Regions from separate parts of the Homo sapiens genome. Here region 2 is linked to region 1. A link means that fine-mapping ties the variant in region 1 to the plasma level of a protein whose gene starts in the linked region. Region 1 holds a variant in brackets. A gene starts in the other region. All regions are shown on their reverse strands.

Evidence for each region. A credible set is the group of variants that fine-mapping cannot tell apart. PIP is the chance, under the fine-mapping model, that this variant and not a neighbour inherited with it causes the effect. Protein levels are from antibody-based Olink assays in UK Biobank. Linkage for the fine-mapping came from a reference panel and not from the study's own genotypes, which makes the PIPs less certain.
Region 2: PCDH12 starts here. The variant in region 1 is the best candidate, but not a certain one, in a credible set for the plasma level of the PCDH12 protein (UK Biobank, PIP 0.82).

What each region holds. Positions count from the first base shown.
Region 1 is chr3:122,288,642-122,299,262 of GRCh38, reverse strand. It overlaps CASR (calcium sensing receptor), which reads right to left. Exons shown (of 7, transcript NM_000388.4): 7 at 7,634-10,621. Among named protein-coding and RNA genes, the nearest start is that of CSTA, 31 kb to the left of the region's middle. The variant G/A (reference allele first, on the strand shown) is at 4,645.
Region 2 is chr5:141,952,133-141,962,753 of GRCh38, reverse strand. PCDH12 (protocadherin 12) reads left to right here and starts at 4,552. Exons shown (of 4, transcript NM_016580.4): 1 at 4,552-7,782. The coding sequence starts at 4,903. LOC124901095 (a long non-coding RNA gene) reads left to right here. Exons shown (of 3, transcript XR_007058977.1): 3 at 129-207. It also overlaps a transcript of RNF14 not described here. RefSeq lists enhancers at 3,880-4,785, 4,786-5,692.

The sequences.
Region 1 (10,621 bases):
GCTTTAAACAGTTCTATACAAAGGGAGCATCTTGAATCCAAAATGTAAAGTTTCTGAGCAAAAGTTTAACAAACATTTGTAAAGAGTTTTTAAAAACAAATCCCCCAACTTTTTGTTACCAAATTTCTAAACATTCAGAAACAGTGTAGCAAACACCTCTATATCACCACTCAGATTACATAATTATGAGCATCTTGCCATATATTTTAACATATATCTGTGTCTATTTTTTTGTATAAAACATTTAAAATTGAGTTGCAGATATTGTGACCAGTTACCTCAAAACTGTTTGGCATTCATCCCCTAAATATAACGACATTTTGTTACATAACCACATTATCACCCCTAGGAAAACTAACAATACTTCCTCAATTTTATCTAAAAATCAGTTCAAATTCACATTTCCCAAATTTTTCTTTAATTCAAATGTTATAATTATATTTGGTTGCTATATCTCTTTAGACTTGTGTATTAGAAATGCCATATATGTGTGCCATGTATGTGTGTGTGTATCTATCTATCTATCTATCTATCTATCTATCTATCTATCTATCTATCTACCTACCTACCTAGATACTGACCTTTTGATGAGACCAGAACAGTTGTCCTATAGAAAGAATTTCAGTATGTTGGATTTGTCTGATTTTTCTCTGTAGTGTCATTTAATCCTAACATCATATTGTCAAATGAATTTTATGACAACCAATTCCTATTACCATGTGAAAGTTTTCAGAAGTTGCAGTGGTTTGAACACACAAAATCTTTGTGGTCTGAGAAAGACCTGATTCTTTCACGGTTCAGGAAGACTCGCAACCATAGAATGTCAGAGCAGAACCACCCCTGCCTCCCCCAGTGGACACATTAGAAAACTGAGGCCTAGAAAGGGCAAGTGTGAAGGTGTCTGTTCTATTGCTGTTGTAACAGATGACTGCAAATTAGTGGCTTAAAACAACACAAATTTGTTACCTTATAGTTCTGGAGGTTGGAAGTCCAAAATGGATCTCACTGAGTTAAAGGTACTGGCATTTCTTTCTGGAAAGTTTAAGGGAAAATCTGCTCCTTGCTGTTTCTAGCTTTCAGAGGCCACCTGTGTTCCTTGGCTTCTCGTCACTTCTACCATCTTAAAATCTCTCTCTGACTCTGACCCTGACTCTCCTGCCTCCCTCTTCCACTTATAAGGACCCTTGTGATCCAGCCCACCTGGATACTTTTCCTATCTCAAGGTCATCTGATTAGTGATCATAATTCCATATGCAACCTAATTCCCCTTTGCCACAGAACATAGTTACAGGTTCCAGGGATTAGGACATAGACATATTTGGAGGCCATTATTCTGCCTACCACAGTAAGTGACCTGACAAAAATTATACTGCGAGTTACTCGCAAGAATCCTTTAGTACACTGCCATCTGAAATGTTTGTTTGTTTTGCACTGGAATTTGGTAAAAGGTGATACTATATTGAACCCTGTTCAAGAGAGTTTAATAAAAGAGGCATTAAAGGGATTTTTTTTTTATTATAGAATGGCATTTTTTTTTGAGACGGAGCCTTGCTCTGGACGGAGTCTTGCTCTGTCGCCCAGGCTGGAGTGCAGTGGTGCTATCTCCGCTCACTGCAAGCTCCGCCTCCCGAGTTCACGCCATTCTCCTGCCTCAGCCTCCGGAGTAGCTGGGACTGCAGGCGCCCGCCACCACGCCCGGCTACTTTTTTGTATTTTTTTAAAGTAGAGACGGGGTTTCACTGTGTTAGCCAGGATGGTCTCGATCTCCTAACCTCGTGATCCCCCCACGTCGGCCTCCCAAACTGCTGGGATTTAGAATGAGATTGTTATAACCAGGTGGATGCAGTTTGGTTCTGGAGGATAGTGCTAATTTGTGTATCTGATACATCTGAAGTCAGATCGTTTTACCCGCTAGTTTTGTTAAGGAAGCTGAGTGTTTTCTTTGACTATAATTAGAGAATCCAAATCACTTGAATCTTACTATTAACTTCAACTTGACATCCTAAATTCTATTTGCCTTCTTTTATCAAGCACAGTGAAAGAATCCAAAAATGTAGGAGAGGCATACACACCTTTTGTGGGTTATCTGCTCAAATCAAATCCAAGAGGATCATCCATCAATGTCCAAACTCACACGATGTCAAGACTTACTGCTTTACTAAAAGGTGAGTCTCTGCCGTGGTCTTAGATCCTTTCAAAGTCCACAAGGCTCTGTGGGGTTGACTCTTGTTAGGATAATTTCTATAACTGCCAATGTTGCAAAGAAATTTTTGTTTCTGGCTCGAATAAATATTTTCTCCAGATCAAAATTTTTGTTTCTGGCTTAAATAAATATTTTCTCCAGATCACACTCATTGATGTCTCATGAAATGCAATAGAATATGTCTCATTGATGTTGGTGGGGTTTTTCTGAAGTGGCAAATGAAAATCATTGAATATTGTTGATCAAGTAGGAAAATCCAGTTTATTGGGAAGGGTGAATTATGAGGTTATAGTTAACAGAAGTGAAATGTTTTAAGTTAGTGGTTTTAGATCACATATTGGGGGGAGTCAGACAAGATAGGAAGGAAGAAACTACAGAATCTTGCCTATATAACAGAACAGGGAGTTGAGCCAAGAAAATAGCTAGAGTCAAAACCAAATGTGTCGAGGGATTCAGTTGAACTTTGAAATCTCTACTCTTGGGTGTCCTGATTATGTGGCTGACTCCTTAAGGGTATTATAATGAAAAAAGCCACAGCTCCCACCTTAGGGGAATGTCTGGAAGGAGTCTGGGAGGGGGCTTGGGACCAAGGAAGTGATGTTGAGGGCATGATTTTGAATTTGAAATAATGGTTGTTAAAAAAAAGATTACCCAAGCACTAGGCAAGATGGTCAGGCAGATTTTACTGGAGGGGGCCATGGCAATAGGTGTAGGGACCACTGCAACAGGGTCTTGCCAATCAGACTTAACTCTGACCCCAACCAGTACAAGTGGGGATTCGTAGCGAAGGAGCAGGGTGGTGACTGTGGGTGGAAAATGACTAAGAGGAAACATCAGGGATAAGGGGTGTCTGGCTAAACTAACTTGATAGGATTCTTGCTGCAGGCAGGCCAGGGTGATAAGATATTGAGGGTGGTCAGATACCTAGAGTGGGGGATTTTCCCTAACCTGACTTAACAGGATTCTTGCTCACATTTGATTCAGCAAGGACAGGGAGGGAAGCCCAAGGTTGGGCCTAGTTATGAGGAGCACTCAGAGGAGCTTGACTAAAGTTTTGGTCAAAGGAAAGAGTCTTTGTCCCTGTTATTATTCACACCTGGGAACTCAAGAACTTTTTTTGGGCCTTTCAGCTGTGTTGAATCTTCCATGGAAGTGGCTGTCAGGGGAAGTAAGTGGAGTGTTTCTGTGTATCTGCATTGCGTCATTTATTTTATCCGGTGGCCCTTGCTGCCTGGAAAAGAACCCCAGGGCAATAGGAATTTAGAGTTTATTCTTTTGCATGTTCTTAGGTCCTGGTCAAGAGGGTTGCCTGGAGGGGCAAACAGAAACTAGGTATATCAAAAGATGCTTCCAGGTGAGGAGAGTATATCACCCCCATTAAGGAACCTGGAGGAGACAGGTCTCCAGCAATGGAAGAAGGCTCCAAAGAACACATGAAAGTACCCACAAGCAAAAGAGTCAGCTGTAACTTACTTTCCTTCCTCCCTGTGTCCCAGTTTCGGAGGGATTAACCACGTGTGCACAGAGGAAAGGGCACGGCACAAATGGGGTGAAGGGGGAAATGGCTAACCACACCCTCTTCTCTGACTATAGGCTTGTTCATCTGCAGGAGGCCTGAGCTGAGGAAGGGGAAGAGGCCCAAATGAAACTGTGTTCAGAGTTTTGACTATCACATGAAAGTGTACAAAAGTGAAGTTACTTTAGGATTCTATCCCAAGAGCTTTGCTTGCTCAGTAAGATTGTTACAGTTGTGATGGTCCAGGCTGGAGATGTCTGGGGCCTTCATTAGCATGGTGGGAGGTGGAGGAGGATGATGAGGCACAGAAAGAGGAGACATTGAGCAATGCTAATAACATTTGGTCTGTTTTGTGTTTGGTTGCATAACAAAGTGATGTTAAAAAATTGTTCTTTGAATGTTTTGTCTTCCACCTTATCACAGGTCACCTAATATTGACCAGAGTGTGGGAAATGAATTAGCACTCTCCATAGCCTATCCAGTCAATAATTCTGCTGGATTTACCTCAAGAGCCCAAAAGTGACTTCCTCTAATCTCCTGTCTCCTAGAATCTTGGCTTTCTTAGCCCTTAAATCACAGTTAAAATATATATCTCAGATCTCAGATAAGGCTTTCTTCTGTCCTCCCTTCTTTTCTTCCTTCCTCCCCTCTCTCCTTCCTTTTTACAGCAAAGTTATGTAACTTTACAAAAGAAAAGCAAATGAACAATAAACTCAGTTTCCTCCATCCTATTCCCTCGTTTTGCTTTTCAGTGAAATTGTATTCATGTTATCCTGTGTGGATATCCTATTCTGTGTCCTGTTCTTCCCTAAACATTATTTCTTGAACTTGATTGTGTTTTGACATAGTCCACATGTTTGCACAGCTAATGTCTGTGGGCTCCCTGACATGGAATTATAGCATAATTTCCTTAGCCTGGGTGTTG[G/A]GCGCTGGATCCTCTCCTGTTTTTCTCACAGGACGTCAGCAGTTGCCAGTGCTCCCCGGGTGCAGGCCTACCCTCAATACGGCCCAGACAGGTTCTCTTTTAGCCTGAACACGTTGGTAACTAATTAATTTTGCTGCCTGTTGGATTATTTACTTGGGACTGTGCATAAAAGAGAAATTTCTGGCACAAAGGCTAAGAAGGATCTGTTAAGAAATTTTTAACATTTTGCCAGAAGACGATAAAAAATGTGAACCAGCCAAGAGTTGGTTCACCTAAGGATAAGATCATAAATGGATGAAATGTTAGAAGATCCAGGGGACTTGTTTTTCATTAAGCTCCAGGAAGGCCTTTCTGATATAGTCCAAAGAATTACTTTTTAACCTTGTTGTAAAAGTCTTAATTTGATTTTAAATTTTTTGCTGTCCAACTACAATTTTAGCTGCCTGGCAGACTTTCAGGTTCTCTTTTTTGTGAGTGTTTGACAAACTTTTCTTGTGGCTAATTGAACCAGTCAAATCAGTGAAATTCTTTGGTGTGATTTTTTTTTTTGACTAATAGTATTTTTTATCCTTCCACTGCTTTTTAACATTTTTTATTATGGAAAAAAATTTAAAACTAAAAAAAAGAAAGGGAAATAGAAAAACGAACCTTCCTTTACCTGTCACCCAGCTTCAATGACCATAATTTTCTGCTCTTCCTGTTTTATTTCTCTCCCTTATTCCTTTTTTCCTCCCCATTCTAGTATTTTAAGGCAAATCCCAGACATCATATGATTTCATCCATAAGTACTTAATGCGCATCACATTTTTTTAAATGACCATGGCACAAAGGACAAAGCAAATGGGCTAAAATGTAAACAGTAACTGAATCTGGGCAGTGGGGATTCAAGTGTTCTTTGTACTACTTTTCCTTTGGCAAATTTTCTGTAAGTCTGAAATTATGTCCAAATAAAAGCTTAAACAAATGAACAAACCAAAAACATGACCATAATATTGTCCTATCTGAGAACTCAAGTGACAGATTTTTCTTGTTTTACGATACATTACGCTCATGGAAAGAAATTAAGGAACAAAAGCTCAGAAAAATATTACAAAGAAAATACAAATCACTAATAATTCTAACACCCAGACATAATCACTATTAAATCATTATGCATTTTCTCCAGGCTACTAAATAGACACTTGTTGTACTGGACCCGTATTAACTGCAGTAGGGATGGCACCAGGTTCAAGAGGCTGAAGAAGAGACCTGGAGCCAGCAAAGCAGGCACAGGGTTTCCTGAAGGGGACTTAAATACAGGGCAGTTCAGTGGTGGTGGACTGGATGGGAGAACCTCAACCTCTTGTAAAAAGCATGCAGTTCGCATAGCATGTTCACTTAGCACTCTCCCCCCAGCAACCTCCATCTGGAAACCGTCATTTCTTGTTAACTTATTACTATCAGGTCGGGTTACCATACAACACCAACACACACAAAGACACACATACAAACATATGTGTGTTATTTAAAAAGACAAATAGTACTAATTGGCTTATAATAAAACACACTTGTTGCCACACTCCCCTGTAGCACCCTCCCCTGCAGTGCAAGTTCCCGCTGTCTTTCCATCTCCTCTGCCAGCAGGTTCTCCCTCATAGTAAAATGCCAGGTGTAGTTCAGCCTCCAGCACAGCATCTTGTGGATCTACCACAGCTGTGGAGATAAAAATAAATCATATTTTGCTTATATTTTTCTTAAGAGAGTGTGTTTTTCATGTTGTGTTTGATCTTAAAAATCTTTGTTTTGGGGTGGTAGACACTGCGGACGGGCTTGTTCAGTAGCCACTCTGACCCTCTTCTAGCAGGTCTTCCTCCACTATAGAGGCTGGGAAACAAATGCTACATTTCCAGACTCCTTGACAGCCAGGGCTCTGCATGTGGCTGATATGAGACTTGGAAAGTTGGTGTGAGTGGGGCCAAGCACAGGCAGAGGGATTTGGTTCCTCCAGCTTCAGTGAAGGTTCCAGTGTCCTGTTCTCTGTGTCTTGGTGCTAAGTGGAAGGCAGGGGAGGTTATGAAGCTTTTGCCAGAACACCCTCATAGGGGGATTAGGTATTTCTCCTGGGTGAATTGATCCTGATTGTATAGCAACTAAATTTGGATCACTGAGCCTCCCAAAATGTTATAAGCTTCCTAATACCATATAACAAGTACCTTTCTGCTTGAACTAGTTAGAGTGAATTCTATTGCCTCCAACTAAGAAACCTGACAGAAGAAATCATTGCATTCCATGGTACTTCCTGAGATTTCAAAAGCAAATTCTCTAAGCTTCAGTCACCCATGGTTTTAATAATTATTTATATTTTGCCTATATTCCTGAAGTTCCTTTCAAATCACTTGTTTTATTTGGCAAACAACCATAGTTGGTAATTATGGCAGGTAATAGTCTATCTACTTTTCTTTTTTTGAGACAAAGTCTGGCTCTGTTGCCCAGGCTGGAGTGCAGTGGCTACATCTTGCTTCATTGCAACCTCTGCCTCCTGGACCCAAGGGAGCCTTCCACCTCAGCCTCCCAAGTAGCTGGGATTACAGGTGCATGCCATCATGCCCAGCTAATTTTTTGTATTTTTTGTACAGATGAAGTTTCACCATGTTGCCCAGGCTTGTCTCACACTCCTGACCTCAAATGATCCTCCTGCCTTGGCCTCCTAAAGTGCTGGGATTACAGGCATGAGCTACCATGCCTGGCCTATGTACTTTTCATAGTGGAAAGTGAGACAAAGAAAGCTTAAGTGCCTCATCCAAAGACGTGTAACTTATCTGTCATACTGCCTAGAATCCCCCTCTTTTCCACTATTCTATGTCCTCGGCCCGTTCAGAAATTTAAAAGTCCCATGAAACTCTTGGGAGCTAATTAGAGCTCTGGAAAAATTTGTAGGAGGGGTGACTGACCCAATATGGTGATTCCTATCTAATATGATATGCTTATCTGTTTAAAATTTGGTTGCATGTTTATTTTAAATTCTTTTCTTTATTTTCCTGTTATAATTTTGTGCTTAATATACAAAACTTGGGAAAAATTTAGAAAATCCTAAAGAAGCAGAAACAATTATCCATTAGTCCACTACCAAGCAATCTTCATTTATAATGCTCATCATCACTGGCCATCAGAGAAATGCAAATCAAAACCACAATGAGATACCATCTCACACCAGTTAGAATGGCGATCATTAAAAAGTCAGGAAACAACAGGTGCTGGAGAGGATGTGGAGAAATAGGAACACTTTTACACTGTTGGTGGGACTGTAAACTAGTTCAACCATTGTGGAAGTCAGTGTGGCGATTCCTCAGGGATCTAGAACTAGAAATACCATTTGACCCAGCCATCCCATTACTGGGTATATACCCAAAGGATTAGAAATCATGCTGCTATAAAGACACATGCACACATATGTTTATTGTGGCACTATTCACAATAGCAAAGACTTGGAACCAACCCAAATGTCCAACAACGATAGACTGGATTAAGAAAATGTGGCACATATACACCATGGAATACTATGCAGCCATAAAAAATGAGGAGTTCGTGTCCTTTGTAGGGACATGGATGAAGCTGGAAACCATCATTCTCAGCAAACTAATACAAGGACAAAAAACCAAACACCACGTATTCTCACTCATAGGTGGGAATCGAACAATGAGATCACATGGACACAGGAAGGGGAACATCACACACCAGGGCCTATTGTGGGGTGGGGGGAGGGGGGAGGGATAGCATTAGGAGATATACCTAATGGTAAATGACGAGTTAATGGGTACAGCACACCAACATGGCACATGTATACATATGTAACAAACCTGCACGTTGTGCACATGTACCCTAAAACTTAAAGTATAATAAAAAAAAAAGAATAAAGAAAAATTTGGAGGAGGGGTGACTGACCCAGTATGGTGATTCCTATCTAATATGATATACTTATCTGTTTAAAATTTGGTTGCATGTTTATTTTAAATTCTTTTCTTTATTTTCCTGTTATAATTTTGTGCTTAATGTACAAAACTTGGGAAAAATTTAGAACATCCTAAAGAAGCAGAAACAATTATCCATTAGTCCATTACCAAGCAATCTTCATTTATAATGAGTGTATATTTATAATTTATAAGTTTCTCATTTATAATGAGAGGTCAGATAGAAACAAAACATTTAAAGAAAATCAGGACATTCTGAACAATAACCACATCTTTGGGTTGATATCAACGAAGACAATCACATTCTTCCAAAAACATTTCCTGATGCCTTTACAGGAAATCCTGTAATGACCCCAGGGTTTATTCTTGGGCTTTGATCTCTTACCTATTTTCACCAAACTTGAAAATATTTGCCATCCATGTGCTGAAACTTCAGTCACAGAGTTTGCTGCTTTTATTTGTTCTAACTTCCTGCGCTATCTAGTTACCCAGGTGCCCACATTTTAGAGGCAGGGAGCTGGTGCTGTATCTCTATTATTCCCCCCGCCTCTACCAATAAAATTGTTTTTCTTCTTCTTTTTTTTTTTTTTTGGCAGGGTCTTGCTCTGTCACCCAGGCTGGAGTGCAGTGGTGCAATCACAGCTCAATGCAGCCTTCACCTCCTGGGCTCAAGCAGATCCCCCCACCTCAGCCTCCTGAGTTATCTGCCACTACAGGCGCATGCCACCATGTCCAGCTGTTTTTTTTTTTTATTGTTTGTAGAGATGGGGTTTTGCCATGTTGCCCAGGCTGGTCTTCAACTCTTAGGGCTCAAGTGATCCTCCCACCTCAGCCTCCCAAAGTGCTGGGATTGCAGGCATGAGCCTCTGCATCTGGCCTCAGCTGTTGATTTAAACAGGTACCCCTGCTTGTCTCCACTCCAAGTGTCCTCCACTCTTGTCCAGGGGTCAGGGGAGGGGATGAATGTGGTGGTTATTCCCAACAGAGGAGAAGGTTCCCCTAGCCCCACTCGGTGCTAGAGTCACAGTTGTCCCTCCAGTTCCCAGAGGCACCTTCATGCTGGCTCTGCCCGGCTTCCTGCCCTGTTGGCCTTCACCTAGCAGTTCTCCATTTCTCATACCACTTGCTGAGCTTTTCCTCTCAAGGCTAAGGTTCTTCTTTGGATCCTTGGAATGCACCTTTATTCCTGTGACAGGTTCTACCCTGTGCTTGTTGTTTCCCTGACCCCTGCCTCACTCCTTGCATAATAGCAAAGTCACTCAAAGTTGTCATCCAAGTCTTGATGTTTTTTTTCCATGATCTGGGCCAGGAAAACCAGCATCTCCCAGAGGCTGTGATCTCACTGTGGCAACTTCCTCCCACCTACCCTAATTCCACCCACCTTTGGGAGTATTCTTGTCTCCAGTGGACTCCTAAAATGACCACTCAGGCTCAGACAAATGAGGGCCACCTCCTCCGGTGATTAGCACCCCTTATTGATGTTCCATTATTCTTGTAGCAATAATTATTTCAAATGCAGCAGATGAGCAAAGGGAAGCTCTGGCTGGGCAGAACCAGCCCGTAGCTATGTGATTTCAGCCAGAGCAAAACGACAGACAACATTGCCTTGAAATGTGCCTTTTGGAGACAGAGGTAGGGTAGCCCCAACTTCCCCAAAATCAAAATTAATGCAATTAGACAACGTGTGACGATCATAGGGACTTTCAGGGTATTGATGTTATATGCTGATCGTCACCTCTAAATTTCCAACCTAAATTCTTAAAATCTTCTAGGACACTTTCATTTGAGTGAAAATCTTTTTAACTTTATAATTCATTTTAATTTTCAAAAGAAATGTAAGCAGTTTCCCATTGTTAACAAAACCTAAGAAATATTTTAAAAAGTAATTAAAAGGTGATCATATATTTACCTCCTGACTTCCTTTATTCAAGAGAAAAGCAAACACTAGTTTGTTGAAGCTACCAATTTCAGGTTTCTGCTACTGACAGATAATAGAATGAGACAACACGGCTGTGTATTTTCTATAACCA
Region 2 (10,621 bases), not on the chromosome of region 1:
ACAAAATAAATTTGGAAAAGAACATACAAATCTTTTCTTGTATTTTTCTTGAAAATCATGAAGGAGGTCTATAATTTGCAATAACGAATTCAAAAGTCCTTTTCATCTTCATTCTACCTCCTTCACAGCCTCTGCTGTTGTCTGCTGTATTGCTCTCCAGAATTTTCTCAGATTGCAGAAATCTCCCTCCTCCCGTCTATTTATTTTTATCACGTAAATCAACTTAGCCTCTCTTTCCAGCAAAAAGGTCCAATCAAATTCCCCAACCCTGTCCCAAATGAAGGGTGCGGAACTGAGCTGGCAATTACAGACTATTCTTTGGCAGTATTCTGGGAAAGGGAAAAGTATGAATTTTCTTGCCCTGTCCCTGGTATTTTGTAAAGCTTTCCAAGTGACTTCGATATCTGGACCCTTTTGAGAACTGCCGCTGTTAACCAAGACATAAAGCTTTTTCATTTCTTGAAAGGTCCTATTTCTTGGCAAATTTCTCCCTGCAAAGTGCATTCTTTTTTCTGCACTGACCCCAGAAACAGGTGCCATTGTGTGGGAGACAGCACCTGTCATCTGTCTCAACAAAGTCCACAAAGTGCCCTGCTAGGAGCAGATAACCCAGAACATCTACCTGAGTCTCCCAGTCAAGATTCCTGGTCTGACTAGGAATCTAACTTCAACAAGATCTTCCTGAAAAAAGACGCTGAGCTTGGACGGTCCAACCACCTCCCTACCTGGGATAAGCCGGAGGATGCTTCTTGGCTTCCCCAAAGCTGTCTTGGTGGTGATGCTGTGGCAACCACAGGGGAGATTCACGAGGAGAAAGCCTGGAAGACCAGAGCCCTGGAAGTGGGGCAGCCAGCCCAGCGGGACATTCGTAGGGGCGAGGTGTGATCTCAGCCTTCATTCAGCTGGCCTGGGAGTCCTCCAAGGGTCAGAGTCACACCTTACTAGTCTGACCCCTCAAGGTTCCTTAGGACTCCAGGTGTTTTAAGAAGATTCTCTGAACCCCCACCCTTCCCACTTCACCCCTCAGCCCTCCCTGTGGTTAAGAACCCAAGTGTGAACAACCCCAAGTTTGGTGGTTAGTGAGGCCTTCAAGCACAAACCCTAATCCTGCCCTTTTAAAAAAAATATTTTGGACTTAAGGGAGGCTGTCCTCAATTGTTTCAAACCTATTTCAGAGTACCTCCACTCCTTCAAACCTATTTTCAAAACTCAGGAAAACGTCGCCTTTCCAGACGAACTCTAGTGACAGCTCCATTCACCCCTTGGCATTTGACTGCTAAAGATCAGCTGACCCCTGCAGCCAGAAGGAGGAGAGAAAATTGCTAAATGGGGACCTCATTTCCAGAGGTGATCACCTTAAAAAAGTCTGGGGCCTTGTTTGCCAGCTTTGAAATCTCAAAGGGTAATCTTAGCTTCATGTCCCCAGTGTGAATAAAACAAACAATAAAAACCACCTATGAAATCTAAATTCAAACTTTCTTGCGACCTATGCATCATTTTTTTGCATTCACATTCCCAGTCAAAACACAGACACACACACACACACACCCAACAGATATATAACTGCATGTAAAATATATATAGATAAAACAATGTCCTCTGAAGAATATAAATGTTAACACAAGTAAAATTATCATGAATTCCATAACTCCTTCTGTGGCCTTGGTCCACGTTAGGTTTTCCATTAAGAGATACTATTGTCATCAGTGAGTAGCTTCTCCTGTTGTATTCTTCTGTGTAGCACGGGGCTGGAGCTGTGGATATTTATGAACCCCAGGCACCCACTTCCTGTTTTCGTGGCTGTCCCCGGTCCCTGCCTCTGTGCCGTTTTCTCTGCCTTTGGCCACCAGATGGCGCTCTGGAAACGAGTTTTCTGCATCAAAGCTCCCCTGCATTACTCTCAACTAGGCTCCCTCCCTCTTCTCTGTTCCCTTCCAAGCCATTTTCCAGGGTGCAGCCAAAAGGCCTTTCTGGAGGGCACATCTGTGTGATCTTGGGCAAGTTACCTAACGCTGTGTGCTCAGCATCTTCAATGTGATGGTATGGCTGTGAGTGCGTCATGAGAGGATGTAGGTAAAGCACTTAGGACAAGGCCTGGCATGTGGTCGCTGTTCTCATTATCCTGCGTAGAGCTTTTCAAAAGCACTCCACGACCTTCAGGACAAGGTCTAAATTCTTAGCCATGGGAACCCAGGCCACTGCATCATCTGAGGACCCCTGCTTATGTCCCCTGCCCAACCTTCCTCCCTACACTACTGCACTGACCCTCTTGCAGCACAGCCAGGAGCCAGCCTGCCCACTTCGGGGCCTTTGCCCATTTTGCCCCTGCCACCAGCTTTGCCTGTCTCCTGCCTATTCAACTTCCTCGGGCTCACTCCTCCAGGTCCGTCAGGATTCAGCGTGTGCCCTCCATGAGGAGCCTCCCGGACCCCCAGGCCTGATTCCAGAGCCATTCTACTGGCCTCTCGCCTTTCATTTTCCCTGCCCCCACCTGCGACTGTCAGCCCCTTGCCTTGTTCACTGTCAGGCACACAGGGGGACGATTGCGGGGCGGATAGTGAGACTGTCACGTGGGCTGCCAGCAGGGGGCAATGGGCACCCTTGTGTCCCTGAGCTCCCAGGGGCTCCTAGTAGCTTAGGCAGCACCTTGCCCACACCAAGCTGAGGGAGACCTGAGAAATGGGATTCCTGCCAAAGAGGCAAAGAAAAAAGTGAAGGGACAAATGCAAGGCCATCTTTGCCATTTGCGTATGAGGCATAAAACTTGGAAGATAATAAACAGCAAAATCATAGTCCTTATGTGCTGAGTGCTTTCTCTGAGCCAGGCCCTGTGCTGAGTCCTTACCCCACCTTGTGAGATCGATGACAGCCCTCAGAGAAGGAAACAGAGGCTAGGAGAGGTTAAGTCCCTTGTGCAGTGTCTCAGAGCTTGTGAGTGGCCTGTCTGTCTCCAGGGCCATGCTGTAGGAGGTGGCCCTGGATTCAGGCCCCTTGCTATGGTTTAATGGGTTTCAGTGAAATAGTTGGGAAACCTCAGGAGTGGGATATGGAGTTAAGGGAAAGAAAAGCCAGAGAGAAAGGGAAGGAGTGCAGGTGACTGTCCCTTAGCCACCCCAGTCCTGATGACCACAGGCCTCCATGCCAATAAGCCCTGACTAGTGCCACTTGGGTCCAAACATGGCATCTCTGGCCCCAAGGGCTTAGTAGCAAACACCCATCTAGGGAAGCTGGCGTTCATTCTCATCACCTCAAATGCTTCATGAGCCTCAGGGATCAACCTTGAAGTGGGTATAAGGCTGGGAGAATGTTGGGGGCAGCAAACTGAAGGGCACAATAAGAAGCAATAAGGCCACCTCAAAGCCCACCCAAGCAAACTGCTCATTCACCTCCTTCCTTCCTGAATTTCACCTTATGAGGAGGTGAGTGGAAGATAGGGTATCCCTTAAAACATCTAAAAGGAGAGTTGGGGGCAGCAAAGGAGATGTGCTTCACGGGACTCTTATAAACAAAACTGGGGAGAGAAGAATTGGAGGAAGGGGGAAAGACATAGATGAAAGGGAGGGGAAGGTGTGGGAGAGGGAAACGTATAAAAGCTTCCAAGAGGAGTGGGAGGCTGGGGGTTCCCCAGACAGAGACTCAGTCTGGACCAGATGCAGAGAACAATGGACTTCAAGGCTGGAGGGGGGCAGAAGGGAAGCGGGAGGAGAGCCACACGGTCAAGTTGCACAGGTTCTTGCAGCTTCTGGAATCAAGACCATGGGCACCCTCATAAGTCAGTGTGGGCAGGGACTGCCCCAGGGCCAATCCAAGATCCAGAGGTAGCCATAGGGTGTGACAAGTTGTGCAGATTACAACACTCACCCCTTGCAATAACGTCACTGCCTGTGACTCGGGGCCAGGCCCAGGCCAAAGCCCTTCCTACATCATTTCGTTTAATCCTCACAGTTTCCTGCTGAAAGGGCTACTATTCTTACTCCCATCCCCACTCTACAGATGAGGTAATGGAGGCCCAGGAAAGTTAAGTGACTTGTCCCAGATGACACCGCTGGTAAGTTGCAAAGTCAGAATTTGAACTCAGGCAGTTTACCTCTGATGGCTGCTCTGTTAATCACAGCTGCTTTCCAGTGAGACAAAAACGGGTGATCAGGGCAGAGTCAAGACAGAGAGGTAAACAAGATTGGGAAAAAGACAGGAATGAGAGGGGAACAATGGGGGAAAAGATAGGAACAAAGAGAGTTGGGGAAGGGGAGAGAAACAGGAAACATGACTTGCCCGGGAGGGGCATCAGTCCACGTGCAAGCAGGTGGAGGCTCAAGTTTTCTGCTCACTTGGTGATGCAGAGGCTCCCTTTCCCTCAGCAGCCGCCTTGCTGCGTGGACAGCAGCTTCCCATCTGGCCTGTCCCCGGAGCCCCGGCCTCATCCTCCTCAGCGGCAGGCCACTTAGCTTCACAGGAAATGCTCTTTCTCTAATTGGCATTGAAACTCACAGCCCTCCCTTTTCCTGTAGGTGGGGTTTCCATAGGAAAAAGCTGCTTCTCTGTTTCCCCAGCCTAGCAACTGTTTGGCAGTCAGAGTCCCACATCCTGCTCAACTGGGTCAGGTCCCTCTTAGACCAGCTCTTGTCCATCATTTGCTGAAGTGGACCAACTAGTTCCCCAGTAGGGGGTCTCCCCTGGCAATTCTTGATCGGCGTTTGGACATCTCAGATCGCTTCCAATGAAGATGGCCTTGCCTTGGGGTCCTGCTTGTTTCATAATCATCTAACTATGGGACAAGGTTGTGCCGGCAGCTCTGGGGGAAGGAGCACGGGGCTGATCAAGCCATCCAGGAAACACTGGAGGACTTGTCCAGCCTTGAAAGAACTCTAGTGGTTTCTGAATCTAGCCCACTTGGCGGTAAGCATGATGCAACTTCTGCAACTTCTGCTGGGGCTTTTGGGGCCAGGTGGCTACTTATTTCTTTTAGGGGATTGTCAGGAGGTGACCACTCTCACGGTGAAATACCAAGTGTCAGAGGAAGTGCCATCTGGTACAGTGATCGGGAAGCTGTCCCAGGAACTGGGCCGGGAGGAGAGGCGGAGGCAAGCTGGGGCTGCCTTCCAGGTGTTGCAGCTGCCTCAGGCGCTCCCCATTCAGGTGGACTCTGAGGAAGGCTTGCTCAGCACAGGCAGGCGGCTGGATCGAGAGCAGCTGTGCCGACAGTGGGATCCCTGCCTGGTTTCCTTTGATGTGCTTGCCACAGGGGATTTGGCTCTGATCCATGTGGAGATCCAAGTGCTGGACATCAATGACCACCAGCCACGGTTTCCCAAAGGCGAGCAGGAGCTGGAAATCTCTGAGAGCGCCTCTCTGCGAACCCGGATCCCCCTGGACAGAGCTCTTGACCCAGACACAGGCCCTAACACCCTGCACACCTACACTCTGTCTCCCAGTGAGCACTTTGCCTTGGATGTCATTGTGGGCCCTGATGAGACCAAACATGCAGAACTCATAGTGGTGAAGGAGCTGGACAGGGAAATCCATTCATTTTTTGATCTGGTGTTAACTGCCTATGACAATGGGAACCCCCCCAAGTCAGGTACCAGCTTGGTCAAGGTCAACGTCTTGGACTCCAATGACAATAGCCCTGCGTTTGCTGAGAGTTCACTGGCACTGGAAATCCAAGAAGATGCTGCACCTGGTACGCTTCTCATAAAACTGACCGCCACAGACCCTGACCAAGGCCCCAATGGGGAGGTGGAGTTCTTCCTCAGTAAGCACATGCCTCCAGAGGTGCTGGACACCTTCAGTATTGATGCCAAGACAGGCCAGGTCATTCTGCGTCGACCTCTAGACTATGAAAAGAACCCTGCCTACGAGGTGGATGTTCAGGCAAGGGACCTGGGTCCCAATCCTATCCCAGCCCATTGCAAAGTTCTCATCAAGGTTCTGGATGTCAATGACAACATCCCAAGCATCCACGTCACATGGGCCTCCCAGCCATCACTGGTGTCAGAAGCTCTTCCCAAGGACAGTTTTATTGCTCTTGTCATGGCAGATGACTTGGATTCAGGACACAATGGTTTGGTCCACTGCTGGCTGAGCCAAGAGCTGGGCCACTTCAGGCTGAAAAGAACTAATGGCAACACATACATGTTGCTAACCAATGCCACACTGGACAGAGAGCAGTGGCCCAAATATACCCTCACTCTGTTAGCCCAAGACCAAGGACTCCAGCCCTTATCAGCCAAGAAACAGCTCAGCATTCAGATCAGTGACATCAACGACAATGCACCTGTGTTTGAGAAAAGCAGGTATGAAGTCTCCACGCGGGAAAACAACTTACCCTCTCTTCACCTCATTACCATCAAGGCTCATGATGCAGACTTGGGCATTAATGGAAAAGTCTCATACCGCATCCAGGACTCCCCAGTTGCTCACTTAGTAGCTATTGACTCCAACACAGGAGAGGTCACTGCTCAGAGGTCACTGAACTATGAAGAGATGGCCGGCTTTGAGTTCCAGGTGATCGCAGAGGACAGCGGGCAACCCATGCTTGCATCCAGTGTCTCTGTGTGGGTCAGCCTCTTGGATGCCAATGATAATGCCCCAGAGGTGGTCCAGCCTGTGCTCAGCGATGGAAAAGCCAGCCTCTCCGTGCTTGTGAATGCCTCCACAGGCCACCTGCTGGTGCCCATCGAGACTCCCAATGGCTTGGGCCCAGCGGGCACTGACACACCTCCACTGGCCACTCACAGCTCCCGGCCATTCCTTTTGACAACCATTGTGGCAAGAGATGCAGACTCGGGGGCAAATGGAGAGCCCCTCTACAGCATCCGCAGTGGAAATGAAGCCCACCTCTTCATCCTCAACCCTCATACGGGGCAGCTGTTCGTCAATGTCACCAATGCCAGCAGCCTCATTGGGAGTGAGTGGGAGCTGGAGATAGTAGTAGAGGACCAGGGAAGCCCCCCCTTACAGACCCGAGCCCTGTTGAGGGTCATGTTTGTCACCAGTGTGGACCACCTGAGGGACTCAGCCCGCAAGCCTGGGGCCTTGAGCATGTCGATGCTGACGGTGATCTGCCTGGCTGTACTGTTGGGCATCTTCGGGTTGATCCTGGCTTTGTTCATGTCCATCTGCCGGACAGAAAAGAAGGACAACAGGGCCTACAACTGTCGGGAGGCCGAGTCCACCTACCGCCAGCAGCCCAAGAGGCCCCAGAAACACATTCAGAAGGCAGACATCCACCTCGTGCCTGTGCTCAGGGGTCAGGCAGGTGAGCCTTGTGAAGTCGGGCAGTCCCACAAAGATGTGGACAAGGAGGCGATGATGGAAGCAGGCTGGGACCCCTGCCTGCAGGCCCCCTTCCACCTCACCCCGACCCTGTACAGGACGCTGCGTAATCAAGGCAACCAGGGAGCACCGGCGGAGAGCCGAGAGGTGCTGCAAGACACGGTCAACCTCCTTTTCAACCATCCCAGGCAGAGGAATGCCTCCCGGGAGAACCTGAACCTTCCCGAGCCCCAGCCTGCCACAGGCCAGCCACGTTCCAGGCCTCTGAAGGTTGCAGGCAGCCCCACAGGGAGGCTGGCTGGAGACCAGGGCAGTGAGGAAGCCCCACAGAGGCCACCAGCCTCCTCTGCAACCCTGAGACGGCAGCGACATCTCAATGGCAAAGTGTCCCCTGAGAAAGAATCAGGGCCCCGTCAGATCCTGCGGAGCCTGGTCCGGCTGTCTGTGGCTGCCTTCGCCGAGCGGAACCCCGTGGAGGAGCTCACTGTGGATTCTCCTCCTGTTCAGGTACCTGGGGCATGGGCAGCTCTTTCTCTGGTCACTCCTGGACCACCAGAAACAGAATCAGACACCCCCATAACCTGCACAGTCCTCATGTTTCTTCCTTAGGCTCACCTGGCACTTTCTGATGCTTTGGGTAGCAATGGTTCAGGGCACAGCTTTGTGATCGGCTGAACTTAGCTGTGTGATCCTAGGCAAATTCCTTACTGTCTCTGGGCCTTAGTTGTCTTATCTGTAAATTAGAGATGATAGTAAGAGTATCTACCTTGTAGAGTTGTCCAGAGGATTTGATCAATTAATTCCTATAAGGCATTTATGGTGCCTCACAAGTAGACACACAGCAAAGGTAGTGATTAAGAGTATAAGCTTTGGGCAAGGTTACCTGGGTTCAAATCCTGGCTCCACTTCTTCCTAGCTCTGAACCACAGAGGAAGTTAACATCTCTGTTGAAGATGTCTATGTTAACACCACCCATCTTCTAAGTTTGCTTGAAAATAAAATGAGTGAATGCTCTTAATGCCTGTAGAACAGTGTCCATCTGACATGTAGTCAGTACTCAGCAAATTATTACTATTACTTCCTCAAAGCACTTCTCCATCTCCACTATTTGCCTGCCTTCATCTCATCTGGGCAACTTCCCTATGAAGAAGGCCAGCATAGGCATCATTGCACCCAAACCCAGGTGTTGCAAATAATTTGTCTGAGACCCCAGAGCTTTCCGGCTGGGCCTGCGGATGGGGCAGTGGAAATTACCTTAGAACTTAGCAGTTAGGCAGATTGGAGTTCAGATTTCAACACAGCCACTTAGGAGCTGGGCAACCTTGTACACGTCCTTCAACATCTGAGCCTCATTTTCCTCATCTATAAAATGGGGATTATGAGACCAAACTTACCCTGTGTCTGCCTCCTTAGAGTGTGAGGGCTAAATGGGATGATGAGTGTCAAAATGTCTAAGGACCTGGGATTTTCTAGACACAAGTGGGGAAACCTTTCCAGGGATGATGCCTGATCTCACACCCATATCTGCTTCTGTGAACCTCAGATATTTTCACTGTGCCAGGCTGCCCGCCCAAGGCACACTTCTGTTTGGCCAGGCTATCAGCTCAGGTTTCCTGTGAAGCAAAACACAGTTTCCTTCCCTATTCCCTCCTCAGGAAGCCACCTGGAGATGGCCCAGCTGTTCTCTTAGGAATCTTGCCCTGGGATCGGTGCAGACCCAGAGGCTGCCAGAGCCAACCATTCATTTATCCTTCCATTCATCCATCCATTTATCAGGTGCTTTTTGGATAAACTCTGTGCTGAACACTGTGCTGGCTGCTGGTAGACAGGACAACAGAGAATAGGCCCTGTGGGTGACCCCGCTGAGGTGACAGAAAGAAAGGTGCCCATTTGGGATCAACTTGAGGGTAACAGGCAACTTGCCCAATGCTCATATCTTTCCAGCAGCACATAGAGTCAGATCTGAGTGTAAATTCCAGCCCTCCCACTAATTTCTGTGTAGCCCCTGTGAGCCTCCAATTCCACCTCTGCAAAATGGCCATAATGGTATCTCTTCCCTTAGGCTGTTGTAAGAATTAAATGAGATTATACACCACTGGACAATCACTGTTTATCATGGGATTTATTAATAAGCTCATTTAAACCTCGTAACCCACCATATGACCTGGGTCTCATTAATATGCACTTTTTTTACTGTTGAGGAAACTGAGTAATTTTCTCAGAATGCTTAAGTAATTCCTCAAGGCCACACTGATGGGAACTGGGGCAGGGACATATTTAGGATTTGAACCTGAGTCTGACTGATTCGAGTCTGGGCTGTAACTGTGAAGTGACCCTGAATGACAGTGCTCAGCATAGGGCTTGGCATGTAGGGAGTCATGTCATGAAAAGGCAGCTGTCACTTGAGCAAAGGGTGGCAGGTATCTTAGGAGGGCTTCTGGGCCTGGGCTGGGAGGTGGGATCTTCCCTGAGGCAGGCAATAAGACCCCGAGTCTCCCAAGTCACAGTGAAACCCCAGTCCTGGCCATCTCCTCTTCCAACTCTCCTCTGAGGTTGACACTTCCTACCTCAAGCTGCACAGAGGGGCATGGTGGACCTCCTAAGGGAGGAATGGGGATGGACCCAGGAGGAGGAAGCAGTGTTTCTAGGAATAACAGTGCAAACTCCTTGCTTTTGCAGAGGATTTTTAACTTTTTCAAACCATTTAATCGTGACAACACTGAGAAGAAGGCGTGTGGGTATTTCTAGCCCCCTATTAGAGATGAGGAAACTGAGGTCTGAGGAGGTCTAAAAACCTGTCTAATGCTATACAATAAGCTACAAATGGCCTTGAACTAGAACTCCGCCTCCCAGGACTTGATCTGTTGCCTCTCCCTTCCAATGGCCTATAGGGTCTGGCCGTGATATCTCACCCATCCCCTACTCCATTCTCCAGTCTTTCTGAAACTCTACCTTCTCTTCCAGCCTTTCAGTGTGCAGTGCTTCTGCCTGAAAACCTCCCCACCCCTTGCCCAGACCTTCATTCTCTTTCCACTTGCCAAACTCCTATGGAGCCTTTGGGTCTCAGCAGAGGTGCCTGGCATGTGGTATGAACTCAGTAACATCTGTTGAAATGAATGAATTAACTTAATCCAGTACCACCCCCCTGCTTCCTCCCTGCTCCAAGTTGGGTTAGGGGCCCTCTGCTCCCACAGAGCCCCCATTCTTTCCCTATGCCCAGAGGCAACCCCTGTGGTAAACACTCTTCGCTGCCCTGATCTCCAGCCAGCCTCCCTGTGGGGCTGCCTGCAACCTTCACATCCTGACAGATGTGACCACGCTGAGGGCAGCAGCTGGGGCTCCTTCT